Linked DNA regions of Homo sapiens: region 2 is linked to region 1. Evidence: fine-mapped expression QTL. A gene starts in region 1. The other region holds a variant in brackets. All regions are shown on one strand. Distances are between the middles of the regions. Region 1 holds the start of PUF60 (poly(U) binding splicing factor 60). Region 2 overlaps IQANK1 (IQ motif and ankyrin repeat containing 1).

The links. PIP is the estimated chance that this variant, and not a neighbour inherited with it, causes the effect.
Region 2: its variant is the best candidate, but not a certain one, in a credible set for the expression of PUF60 in breast (GTEx, PIP 0.85).

What each region holds. Positions count from the first base shown.
Region 1 is chr8:143,826,232-143,831,540 of GRCh38, reverse strand. PUF60 (poly(U) binding splicing factor 60) reads left to right here and starts at 2,226. Exons shown (of 12, transcript NM_078480.3): 1 at 2,226-2,261. The coding sequence starts at 2,238. It overlaps LOC107986985 (a long non-coding RNA gene), which reads right to left and starts at 2,261. Exons shown (of 3, transcript XR_001746138.2): 1 at 2,137-2,261; 2 at 1,503-1,695; 3 at 1-832. It also overlaps a transcript of NRBP2 not described here. RefSeq lists enhancers at 935-2,134, 1,455-2,154 and a silencer at 1,939-2,508.
Region 2 is chr8:143,790,236-143,795,548 of GRCh38, reverse strand. IQANK1 (IQ motif and ankyrin repeat containing 1) reads right to left here. Exons shown (of 14, transcript NM_001381874.1): 13 at 5,278-5,313; 14 at 4,904-5,199. The coding sequence ends at 4,941. It overlaps SCRIB (scribble planar cell polarity protein), which reads left to right. Exons shown (of 37, transcript NM_182706.5): 25 at 19-129; 26 at 216-272; 27 at 437-511; 28 at 1,587-1,649; 29 at 2,466-2,573; 30 at 2,682-2,841; 31 at 2,914-3,064; 32 at 3,144-3,329; 33 at 3,416-3,558; 34 at 3,636-3,673; 35 at 3,809-3,883; 36 at 4,109-4,160; 37 at 4,241-4,624. The coding sequence ends at 4,386. Among named protein-coding and RNA genes, the nearest start is that of MIR937, 20 kb to the left of the region's middle. The variant C/G (reference allele first, on the strand shown) is at 1,976.

The DNA of each region.
Region 1 (5,309 bases):
CCAGCAATCCTCCCACCTTAGCCTCTCTAGTAGCTAGGACTACAGGCGTGTGCCACCATGCCCAGCTGGTTTTTTAAAATTACTTTTTGTAGAGACGTGGCCTCACTATATTGCCCAAGCTGGTCTTGAACCCCTGGGCCCAAGTGATACTCCTGCCTCAGCCTCCTGAAGTGCTGGGAAGGCAGGCATGAGCCACTGTGCCTGACCTGGACTTCTCTTTTGAGATGCAGTCATGGTGGTGGCAAGAACACAGGCTCTGGAGCCATTCTACTGCTGCTCCCTGCCTTGTGATGTTGCCCATCAGTAAAAATGGGGTAACAGCTGTATCCATTGCATAGCACTGGGTTGTGAGGATCCCATGAATGAATGTGTGTAAGAACAGTCCTGGGCACCATGCATCCTGCGTGCACATTATTGCCAAGGGAAGCTGTCCCCAGAGGGTGGTGCCTGTGGCTTCCCCTGGTGGTGGTGGCAGACCAGCCCCCCACCTCCCATCCACCCCCTCCATTGTGGAGGCCTTGTGTGCCAGGCTAGCCCTAAGAGCACCCACCTGTGTTACTGCTATTCTGTTTTCCAGCTATCTGGTTCTGTCATTATACATTCTGGAAGACTTCATCTTAAAAGCCTATTGAATTGCTCACTTTCCCCTCATGTTTTATTTCTAAGAGCTCTTTCTCATCCCGAGGTTTCTTTCTCTATAGCCCCCAGTTCCTTTTTATTGACTGAGAATGGCATTTTAGTTTTCATTTTTCTTCGGCTTCCTTTATCGTCTCTGTTTCTTCTGAGTCCCTTTTCTTCTTTCTCAGGTGTCTGGTGATCCTGGGCTGTCCAGCTGCATTGAAGAGTGAGATGCTTTTAGTGGCTGGGGCTTATGACCTGGTGAGCTTCGAGGCCAGGGATCTGGCTGGGCCATTCTACTGGGCAACACTCTACCCCTAGGTGCCCTGCCAGTCTTTTCTTTTGAGCTAGGAGCTGCTGCAGAGAGGAGCCCTCTTCTCTGAGAAGCCTGATGGCATGCGGGTGGTCAGACCCAGCCCAGGGGTGGAGGCAGGGGTAGGACCCAGAGTCTCACTTACTCCCAGGCTTTCAGACAGGGCCTTGCTTGAGCAGGGCCTCAGAGCTCCTCTCCTGGAGCTCACGTCTCAGACACTGCAGTGCCTGCCAGCCCCGGTGGGTAGGGACAGAGGTCTGGGGTTTCCTTTCTGTAGCTGTGCTTTCACCCACGACCCTCAGACACTGGCCTCCATAGCCAAGTGGGCTGGAGTAGCTCTCGCTGTCCACCTTTCTTAAGCTCTGCAATATCCCAGCTCTTTGCCCTTGCAGGGTTTGTCTTTATAAAACCCCTTTCCTATAATTTTGGAAGGTTTCAGGAGGGAGGCGGGGAATATTCTGCCCTATTTAAGTAGAAGTGTCTGTATTAAATTCTAAATGTTCCCAGGGTTGAAAGGAGGCCTGCCCGGGATGCCTTGTGGCCTTAGGCAGCTGAAGGTGCCTGAGCTTACAGATGTGGCTTCTTCGGATGACCGAGTTGGGGTCTCGGGACTGGGTGCAGCAGATGGCAAATGTCCAGGACAGGCAGCTTTCCCAGCAGTACTGACAGACACCTTGGGCCATGAAAGCCAGTTCAGGGACTAACGGGGCCTGCGGGCTGCGGGTCTAGCGACTGATGTCAGCCAACCTAGGGTCATCGGTTCCCTGGAAGGAGAAAAAGCTGCCAATTGAACGGGGCCTCCCGGTCCCAGGGATGTCGCGACGCGGGGACGACGCATCTCACGACGTCAGCCTGAAACACGCGGGCCTTTCATCACCCGAGACTCCTCCAGCCCAGGAGGGCCCCGCTCTTTCGCCTGCCTCCTGGGGGAGAGCCTCTGGACGACGCACGCGACAGCGTTTTCTCCAAAAAAGGCAGAGAAGAGAAGCGTAGCAGTGGCCGCAAGGGCGACGGGCGGCGAAGGGTACTACGCACGCCCGCGTCGGCCACGCGGAGAGATACGCCCGACTCGAGTCCCGCGGCGCACGCCCCTAGACGCCCGAGGTGCGCGGGCCACGCCCCTCGCCCGGCCAAGAGCACGCCCCTTCCGTCGCCCCTCCCGGGGGCGTTTACCGTTCCTCCCCGCCCCGGAAGCGCGTTCTTACCTCCTTCCTCGCGAGAGTTCCGTGCACCGGCACCCAGATCGCGCGAGACAGCGGAAGGAGCAAGAGTGGGAGGCGCGCGCGGAGGCCGCGACGGACGCAAGATGGCGACGGCGACCATAGCTCTCGTAAGTGAGCCCCCCCATGAGCGCGGGCGGCCCTCGGCTTGCGGGGCCGGGTCGTCGACCCAGCCTGGGCGCGGAGGGCCTCCCAAGAACGCGGCGGTCTTCCCAGGTCCCGCGCGGACTCCCTCGTGTCCCCGGGTCGCGTGAGGCGGGGGCGGGGCGGGCGCGCGCCGGCGGCCGGCTCGCGGCCTCAGCTTCCGGCCTGCGGACCCCAGCTTCCGGCGGGGCGGGGCGGGGGCCTGGGCGCGGCGTGTGGCCCTTGCGGGCGAGCCTGGCGGGGTTGCGTTCCTGTCCGCTAGGTCCGGCAAGCGGGGGTCGTCGTCCTCCCTTTGCCGACGGGGGTGTGCGCCGTGGTCACGACGGAAGCGGGGTTCTGGGGGTGACGCGTGGGCCTTCGGGTTGATGGGATCAGAAGGGGACGGGACCTGTAGAAAGGGGCCTGCAGCTCAGAGCATGGGGCGGCCTTGGCTCACTACGCCTGCAGCTGTGAATTCGTTCTCCGGTGCTGGAGAGGGATCTGGTTATCTCCATTCTCTTGTCTCCACGTGGAAAGGAAGGACGTGCGCTCTCATCCTACGTGTTTTGAGAAATCGCATTGTCCCCAGCTCTGCGGGAGGATCTGGGGACGCAGTGGGGAACCAGACAGGCAGTTGGAGGTCTAGTGCGCACCAGAAGCCAGTTCCCACCCAGGGTGCCATTTGCTGGGCGCCCTAGGGAGCTGCGTGGGCATCCAGAGGAGTGAGTCGCCCCCTGCTCTGCTCAGTGCCCACTTCCCCGGGCAGGGCAGGCGTTATTAACGTAGAGGGAGAACACCCATGCACACAACACATGCACGATGAAGTCTGGTCTTTCCTTCTCACCACTTAGCTTATAGGACCTAATCCCCTTTTGGACCTTTCTCAGCCGCAGTTTACCCCTGTATTACTTGTCACCCTTCCCCCAGCCCACACCCAGCGGGATGGGATAAGGTCTGTTTGAGAAGACAGCTTGGGCAAATGGCTGAAGGCTGGACTGGCAGGACCAGGGAGTGTCCTTAGACTGCCATTGCCAGGCCCCCAGCGGGCGGGCTGGTCCCATGTCCCACTGAGGCAGAAACCAGTTACTAGGGGGAGAGAGGCATTTACACAAGATACCCAGCTTGCGAGGGCAGCCCAGTGTGTGATTCACAGGACTGGCTAACTCCACTCTTTCTACTATGTCCTTTCTCTTGAAGCCACAGGAGTAAGTGACCTTTGAGGGGCACTCCAGAGAGAAAGGATGTAAGGGTTGAGGACCTGGTGACTGTCTTCAGGCAGCAGTCAGAGAGTTGATGGTGAAGGAGGAGGAGGCTCAGAGACAAGGACTGGACATGGGAAGGTGGAGGAGGAGAGTGGATGCCTGACTCCCCTAGCACCCGCAGAACAGCGCCCTGTGCTCATGAGGGTTAAATGGGGGCTCAGGTCTGCTGTGGCGTGGTGCCAGATAGGTGGTGTCATTGTTGAGTTGGACGTGGGCCATAACTGACCCCACGAACGGGTTGTCTGTTGGGGTGTTTGTTGCCATCCAAATTCTGTTGGGTTTAATACGTGTTTTTTTATCGTCAGGTTTCAGGCTTGCATCCGGCTCCAGGAGTGAGCTGTAGCCTGTGGTCTAACCCATTCCTCTTTTAATCATTGGGATGGAAAGGCTTCTAGAAGGGTTATCTGTTCCCACCGTCCTGGTTGGGCACAGTGATGAGAGCCTGTCCCCTGTCTCATGCTGCTTCAGCTCTCATGGGAGGTTGAATGGAGCAGCTGAACTTGGCTGACAGTGGCCTGGTGGGGAAGGAAGCCAGAAGATGCAGAAGGGCCTCCCCTCCCATGGGCATGCCTTCTGCCTGGTGGCTGCAGAATGAGGCCGGCTGCCTCTTTGCAGCAAGGGTAGGTCTTCTGGATGCATCTTTTCACTTTGACGCATGGCTCCGTTCTCTTCACTGACAGCCAGACCAGCTCTCATTTGGGGTCATCACCCTTGGGGTTCCAGTTCCTTTCTTCTGTAGGCCCCAGCCTGCAATGTCACCTCATAGAGAGGCCCCCGGCTGCCATGGCCTGGCATAGCTCATAGCCACTCCTTTCTTATCCTGTGCTTTCTTCGTAGTGCTGGTAAACCACAGAAGTCATCTTTGATTTTGGCATTCTTTGCTGGCAGCTGACACCAGGCTCCTGAGAGAGACGTCTTTCTCTCTTGTCTCGTGTCTGCGGCCTCTGCAGCGCTCACTGTGGAGCCTGGGCACGCAGTAAGCAGTGTTCATTGTGTGAAGGGAACTGACAGATAGAAGGCAGTGTCCTGCAGCCAGCTCTGCCCTGGGTATCTGACACTGGATGTTGTTAATACTGATGAGTGCTGGAACCTGTGGCTTGCTTTGCTGCTTTCCATGTGCAGGGACTGCAGGTTGTGGGGTTGGGGGCGTGTTGGGATTTCACTGAATCTTCACAGTAGCCCTAGGAGACAGGCCGTCCCCATTCCCAGCTGAGGAGCCTGAAGCCTTGAGACCTTGGGACCTTCAGTCATTCGCTCCACATTATTTTTTTTTTCTTTTTGTGTGTGAGACGGAGTTTTGCTTTATCGCCCAGGCTAGAGTGCAGTGGGGTGATCCCGGCTCACTGCAACCTCTGCCTCCTGGGTTCAGGCAATTCATGGTAGCACCTCAGCCTCCCAAGTAGCTGGGATTACAGGTGCTTGCCACCATGCCCGGCTAATTTTTGTATTTTTAGTAGAGATGGGGTTTCACCATGTTGGCCAGGCTGGTCTCCAACTCCTGACCTCAAGCAATCCACCTGCCTCGGCCTCCCAAAGTGCTGGGATTACAGGCGTGAGCCACTGCGTCTGGCCACATTACTTTTTAAAAAAATCTTTTTTTTCATAGAGACAGCGTCTTGCTGTGTTGTCCAGGCTGGTCTTAAGTGCTACATCGGTCTCCCAAAGTGCTGGAGTTACAGGTGTGAGCCACCACGCCCAGCCCCTACATTGCTTTTCTTGTTTTCTGATGGAAATACTCTTCTTTGCTCTGGGCTGAGGAAAGGCAGTCCCAGA
Region 2 (5,313 bases), 36 kb after region 1:
CCACACCCCTCTTCTCAGGTGTCCCCAGGTGTCATTGCCAACCCCTTTGCGGCAGGCATCGGCCACCGGAACAGCCTGGAGAGCATCTCTTCCATCGACCGGGAGCTGAGCCCTGAGGGCCCAGGCAAGGTCAGAGGTGCCTGCAGCCGGCAGCCCCAGGGCCAGGGAGCCCGAGGCCGGTGGTGCCTGACGGGTCTGCTCTGCTCTGCTCACAGGAGAAGGAGCTGCCTGGACAGACCCTGCACTGGGGGCCCGAGGCCACAGAAGCCGCAGTGAGTGTGGTCGCCCCACCCCCTCACATCAGGGCACTGGAGCGGGGTGCACATTGCCTGTGGGGTGCTGGGTAGTAACCCCCAGGACCCCCTCTCCTGCCCTGTGCTGGCCGGGTGCTGCCACGGAGCTACCCCTGCTAGTGCTGTGTTCACTCTGCCCCCAGGGTCGGGGTCTGCAGCCCCTGAAGCTGGACTACCGCGCCCTGGCCGCCGTGCCCAGCGCTGGCAGCGTGCAGAGGGTGAGTGCCCAGTGTGCAGTGCCCCCCACCTCCGTCCTGTTGTCCTGTTCATCGGCCACCCCAGGACAAACGCCAGGGCCATCCGGGAGGGAACCTTTGGGCGGGGGCTGGGGTGGGAGGAGGCCACGTCTGACCTGCAGGCTACCCCAGCCTGGCACATGCTTATCACCCTCATTCTCAACCCAAGCCATGTTGGTGCTGCCCCACCCACACACCCTGAGCTGCGGATGGGTGACACAGGCCGAGGCATCCCTCTAGTGGCGGTGCGAGAGCTTCACCTGCTGCTGCTGGGGCTGCCCAGCCCCAGAGGGTGCGAGTGGGGGCAGAGGCTCCTGGGGGATTGGGCAGGCACATGTCCCCAAGGGGAGGACAGGCTGGAGCAGCTGGAGGGGCGGGTGCTGGGGACAGGCAGGAGGATGTGCAGGCCCATCCCTCCCCTTAGAGATACAAATAACCCTCCCAGAGGGTGCGCCCCACCAGCCCCACCGAACGTGAGTGCCGAGGGGTGGCTCCTGCAGGCCCTTGCCCAAGCGGTGGGGTGGTGGTGAGGGGCCAGGCAGGGCCTGGATCTGAGGCAGCGCATTCGGGGGCTCTTGGGTACTGACCCTGCCTCCTCTGGCCATGGGCAGCGCCAAGAGGGAGGCTTCCGGGAGGCCCTTCATCCTCATGAACAACAGCACAGTCATGGGGGCAGCAGTCAGGGCGCCACTGAGCCCTGAGGGCTGCACACCACAAGTAGGGGCTCCCCACCATCACCTCTGTCTCTGGCCCCTCCCCCGAGCCCTCCCTGCTCTCTTCTCCGGCTGTCCTGTCTGCTCCCATCTCTCCTGCAAAGCTCCAGCCAGCACACTGCCATGGAGACAGCAGCTGCCCAGCCCAGGCCCCCGCATCCTGTGGGAACGGGGACGAGCCCCTCCGTGCTGACCGAGTGTCTGGGGCATCCCCTGGGCTATAGTCAGGTTGGGGAACTGAAGAGCTGCTGTGGCTTTTAGGCAAGCCCCAGGGCCCCCAGTCCCTCCTGGTCGGGGGCCACAGCCCTGCCCATCCTCACCCCACCCACTGCCTACTCCTCCAGGTACCGTCTGGAGCAGCTGGAGGGAAGATGGCTGAATCTCCCTGCTCCCCTAGTGGCCAGCAGGTGAGTGTCCCAAGTTAACGGGTGTGCCCCATGGTGGGTGGAGGGCAGGGCAGATGGCCGCTGTGCACAGGGCCCCTCCTCCAGGGATGGGGGGTCAGGGGCCATCGTGGGGTGCTGTTGACTCCGGTTTTCCCTCTGCTACCATGGGGCCTCCTGTGTGAGGAAGGCCAGGGACGCTTTCCTGGCCAGAGCTGCCTGGCGATGGGGTGGGGGGCCTGAGTGTGCTGTTCCTGGAGGGGCTCAAGCTCCTGAGACCCCAGTCAGTGTCTCAGGCCCAACACCTCCCAGGGCCCACCTTATCCCTGCCTGCCTTTTGTCTGGGGGTC[C/G]TTGCCCCCCCACTGTTGGCACCTCCCAACACACTGCCACGTGGGGGTGGAGGTGGCAGCCCCCATGAGACCCAGCCCCAGCTCAGCCCCTCACAGGCAAGATGTCAGCCCCACCCAGGTTGGTCGGTCTCTCTCTCTCTGTCTCTCCCACCCCCCTCTCTACCCCCGTCCCTTGCCTTAAACCCCTGATCCTGCTCTCCTCTGCCCCCGCCGCCCCCACCTGCCTTTTTTAGACAAAACCAGGGGTGATCCAGCCATTGGCTCAGGCCTGGCCAAGGGGCTCCCCAGCCCCCAGGGGCAGAGGTTGTCCCCACTCCGTGAGTGCTCTGTCCCGTGGGTGGGGGTGGCAGAGCCTCCTTCCCCAGCAGGATGGTGGGTGGGGATCAAAGGCAGGCGGGGGGACAGGCGGGGGGACAGCCGGTGGTGAGTTGCACACAGCTGCAGCCCCGACAGCTGCCCCAGCATAGCTCACAAGAGCCCCACCCCCCAGCCGCCCTCCCCGCCTTCTCCGGATGAGCTGCCCGCCAATGTGAAGCAGGCCTACAGGGCCTTCGCGGCCGTGCCCACTTCTCACCCGCCTGAGGATGCCCCTGCCCAGGTGTGTGGGGGCAGCACGCCTCCCTGCTGCGCGTGGTTGGGGTGGGTGCCCGGGGGCCCCAGTATCTCGGAGGAATGCCAGCCAAACCTCAAGGTCCGCTCCCCCCAGCCCCCCACGCCTGGGCCTGCAGCCTCCCCGGAGCAGCTGTCCTTCCGGGAGCGGCAGAAGTACTTTGAGCTGGAGGTGCGCGTGCCCCAGGCCGAGGGCCCCCCTAAGCGCGTGTCCCTGGTGGGTGCTGACGACCTGCGGAAGATGCAGGAGGAGGAAGGTGAGGGGCACGGAAGTGGGGTGGGGGTTGGGTCTCGGCTGGTCTGGCCTGACCCACCCTGCCCTCCGGCAGCCAGAAAACTACAGCAGAAGAGAGCGCAGATGCTGCGGGAGGCGGCAGAGGCTGGGGCCGAAGCGAGGCTCGCCCTGGACGGGGAGACGCTGGGCGAGGAGGAACAGGAGGATGAGCAGCCACCCTGGGCCAGCCCGAGCCCCACCTCAAGGTGAGCACCCGCCCACCAGACGCCCCCTACTCACCCCACGTGCCCCTGCCCCCCACAGCACGTCCTGTCCCTTCCCCAGGCAGAGCCCGGCGTCCCCCCCACCCCTGGGAGGTGGCGCCCCGGTGCGGACGGCCAAAGCTGAACGGCGCCACCAGGAGCGGCTGCGCGTGCAGAGTCCGGAGCCACCGGCACCCGAGCGTGCCCTGTCCCCTGCCGAGCTCCGGGCCCTGGAGGCCGAGAAGCGTGCGCTGTGGAGGGCAGCCAGGTGAGCCCCTGTGTGGGGTCGCCACCCCGCCCTGCTGCCTGTCCCTGCTCCTGCCCCAAGTCACCCCTGCCCGCTGTTCTCTGCAGGATGAAGTCATTGGAACAGGACGCTCTCCGAGCACAGATGGTCCTCAGCAGGTCCCAGGAAGGCCGGGGCACGCGGGGGCCCCTGGAGCGACTGGCCGAGGCCCCTTCCCCTGCGCCCACCCCGTCGCCCACCCCTGTGGAAGGTCTGTGGGTCAGGGCAGGTCGGGGGGGTCAGCCTGCCGCATGGGCTGCTTCCAATGCCCGCTTCTTGTCCCCCCAGACCTCGGCCCCCAGACCAGCACCTCCCCGGGACGCCTGGTGAGGAGCCGGTGGCTATGCCTTCCCTTCACCCCCGAGGCATGGGGGTGGGGTCTGGCCTGCCCCCACCCCCGTGGCCCTCATCCCCCCCTTTCCTCTCACTCTCTGCCTCTCCCCTCACGCTGTCCTTTCAAGCCCTTGTCTGGAAAGAAGTTTGACTACAGGGCCTTTGCGGCCCTGCCTTCTTCCAGACCTGTCTATGACATCCAGGTACCTGGCCTCCAGGCCTCTGCATGCCTGCCACCCTGTCCGTGCCTGCCACCGCCCCCATCCGCTCCCGCAGGGCCTCCCCACGCTCTGCCGTGGCCCTGCCTCTTCACCCCCCCTCCCCCTTCAGCCGGGCTCTGTGGGCCTCAGGGCTGGGAGCCCACCCGTCCACCTGGGTGGTTTGGGGCAGGGCTGGCACCGGCCTGACCAACACTCTCCCCATCACAGTCACCGGACTTTGCTGAGGAGTTGAGGTCCCTGGAACCATCTCCCAGCCCTGGTGAGTTGGGGCCGGGCTGGGGTGAGCTCCCAGGAGCCCAGCTGCCCTCAGCTCACTGCCCACCTGTCCCTGCCCTCCAGGCCCGCAGGAGGAGGATGGAGAAGTGGCTCTGGTGCTTCTGGGCAGGCCCTCACCCGGCGCTGTGGGCCCTGAAGATGTGGCACTGTGCAGCAGCCGCCGCCCCGTAAGGCCTGGGCGCCGTGGCCTGGGCCCTGTGCCCTCCTAGAGGAGCAGGCACCTCCCCCAGACTTGGGGTGGGGGCCCTGCCAGCTCCAGCACCACCCTTGCCCCAAGTCTTTTAACCTGGGTGTTAGCATTTTAAAGAGACCCCACAGGAGTTCTGGCCTGTGACTAACTAACTGCCCCACCCCAGCCGAGACCTCGGCGAGACTGTAACTAGTGATGTTTGTACAACCAAAGACTCTATTTTGTGGTTTAAGGAGAATAAAGTTGACTACATTTTACCTCCCGTCTGCCTGTCCATCCCCCACCCACTAGCACAGACCCTTCCTGCCCTCCGAGGCGAGGCTGAGCTCCGAGGGCTGCACCCTCACCGTCCCTCCCACGTCTCCCGCTGCGCCTCACTGCGCACGGGTCGGCCGGGCAGGCTGCCCATCCCCAGCAGGGCCTCCCCCAAGTGCCTGCAGACCCATGTCCGCCGGCCGGGGCCCGGGACTGCCGGAGTCCTGGACTGGCACACGCCACCGCTGCCCCCACGCACGCAGCACAGATGCAGCACCGCGCCCCGGGGCACACGTTTTATTGGGACTGGGGCCAGCACTAGAGGCCTGTGCCTGGCAGCTGCACGCGCACTGGGAGCAGCACCTGCAGCTGCTCAGCTGGCGGCCACTGGACCTTGGTGACGAAAAAGAGGCGGAAGTGCTCCAGCCGCTGCTCCTGGAACTGCGTGGGGCTATACTCAGGCCCGTCCGTGGGCCGCAGCAGCGACAGGTACCTCTCCTGCACCGCCTCCAGCTGCCGCTGCACGACTGGGAACAGGTCTTCCTCTCGCAGGTCGAACACCAGCGGCTTCCCATACCTGCCCCATGAGGCTGGTGAGGCCAGGGTGGGGCTAGGGAGGTGGGGTGGGGTGTACCTGTCACCCTGCCTGCCTCACCGCAGAGCCCCCAGCAGAGCCAGCCACATCGTCTCC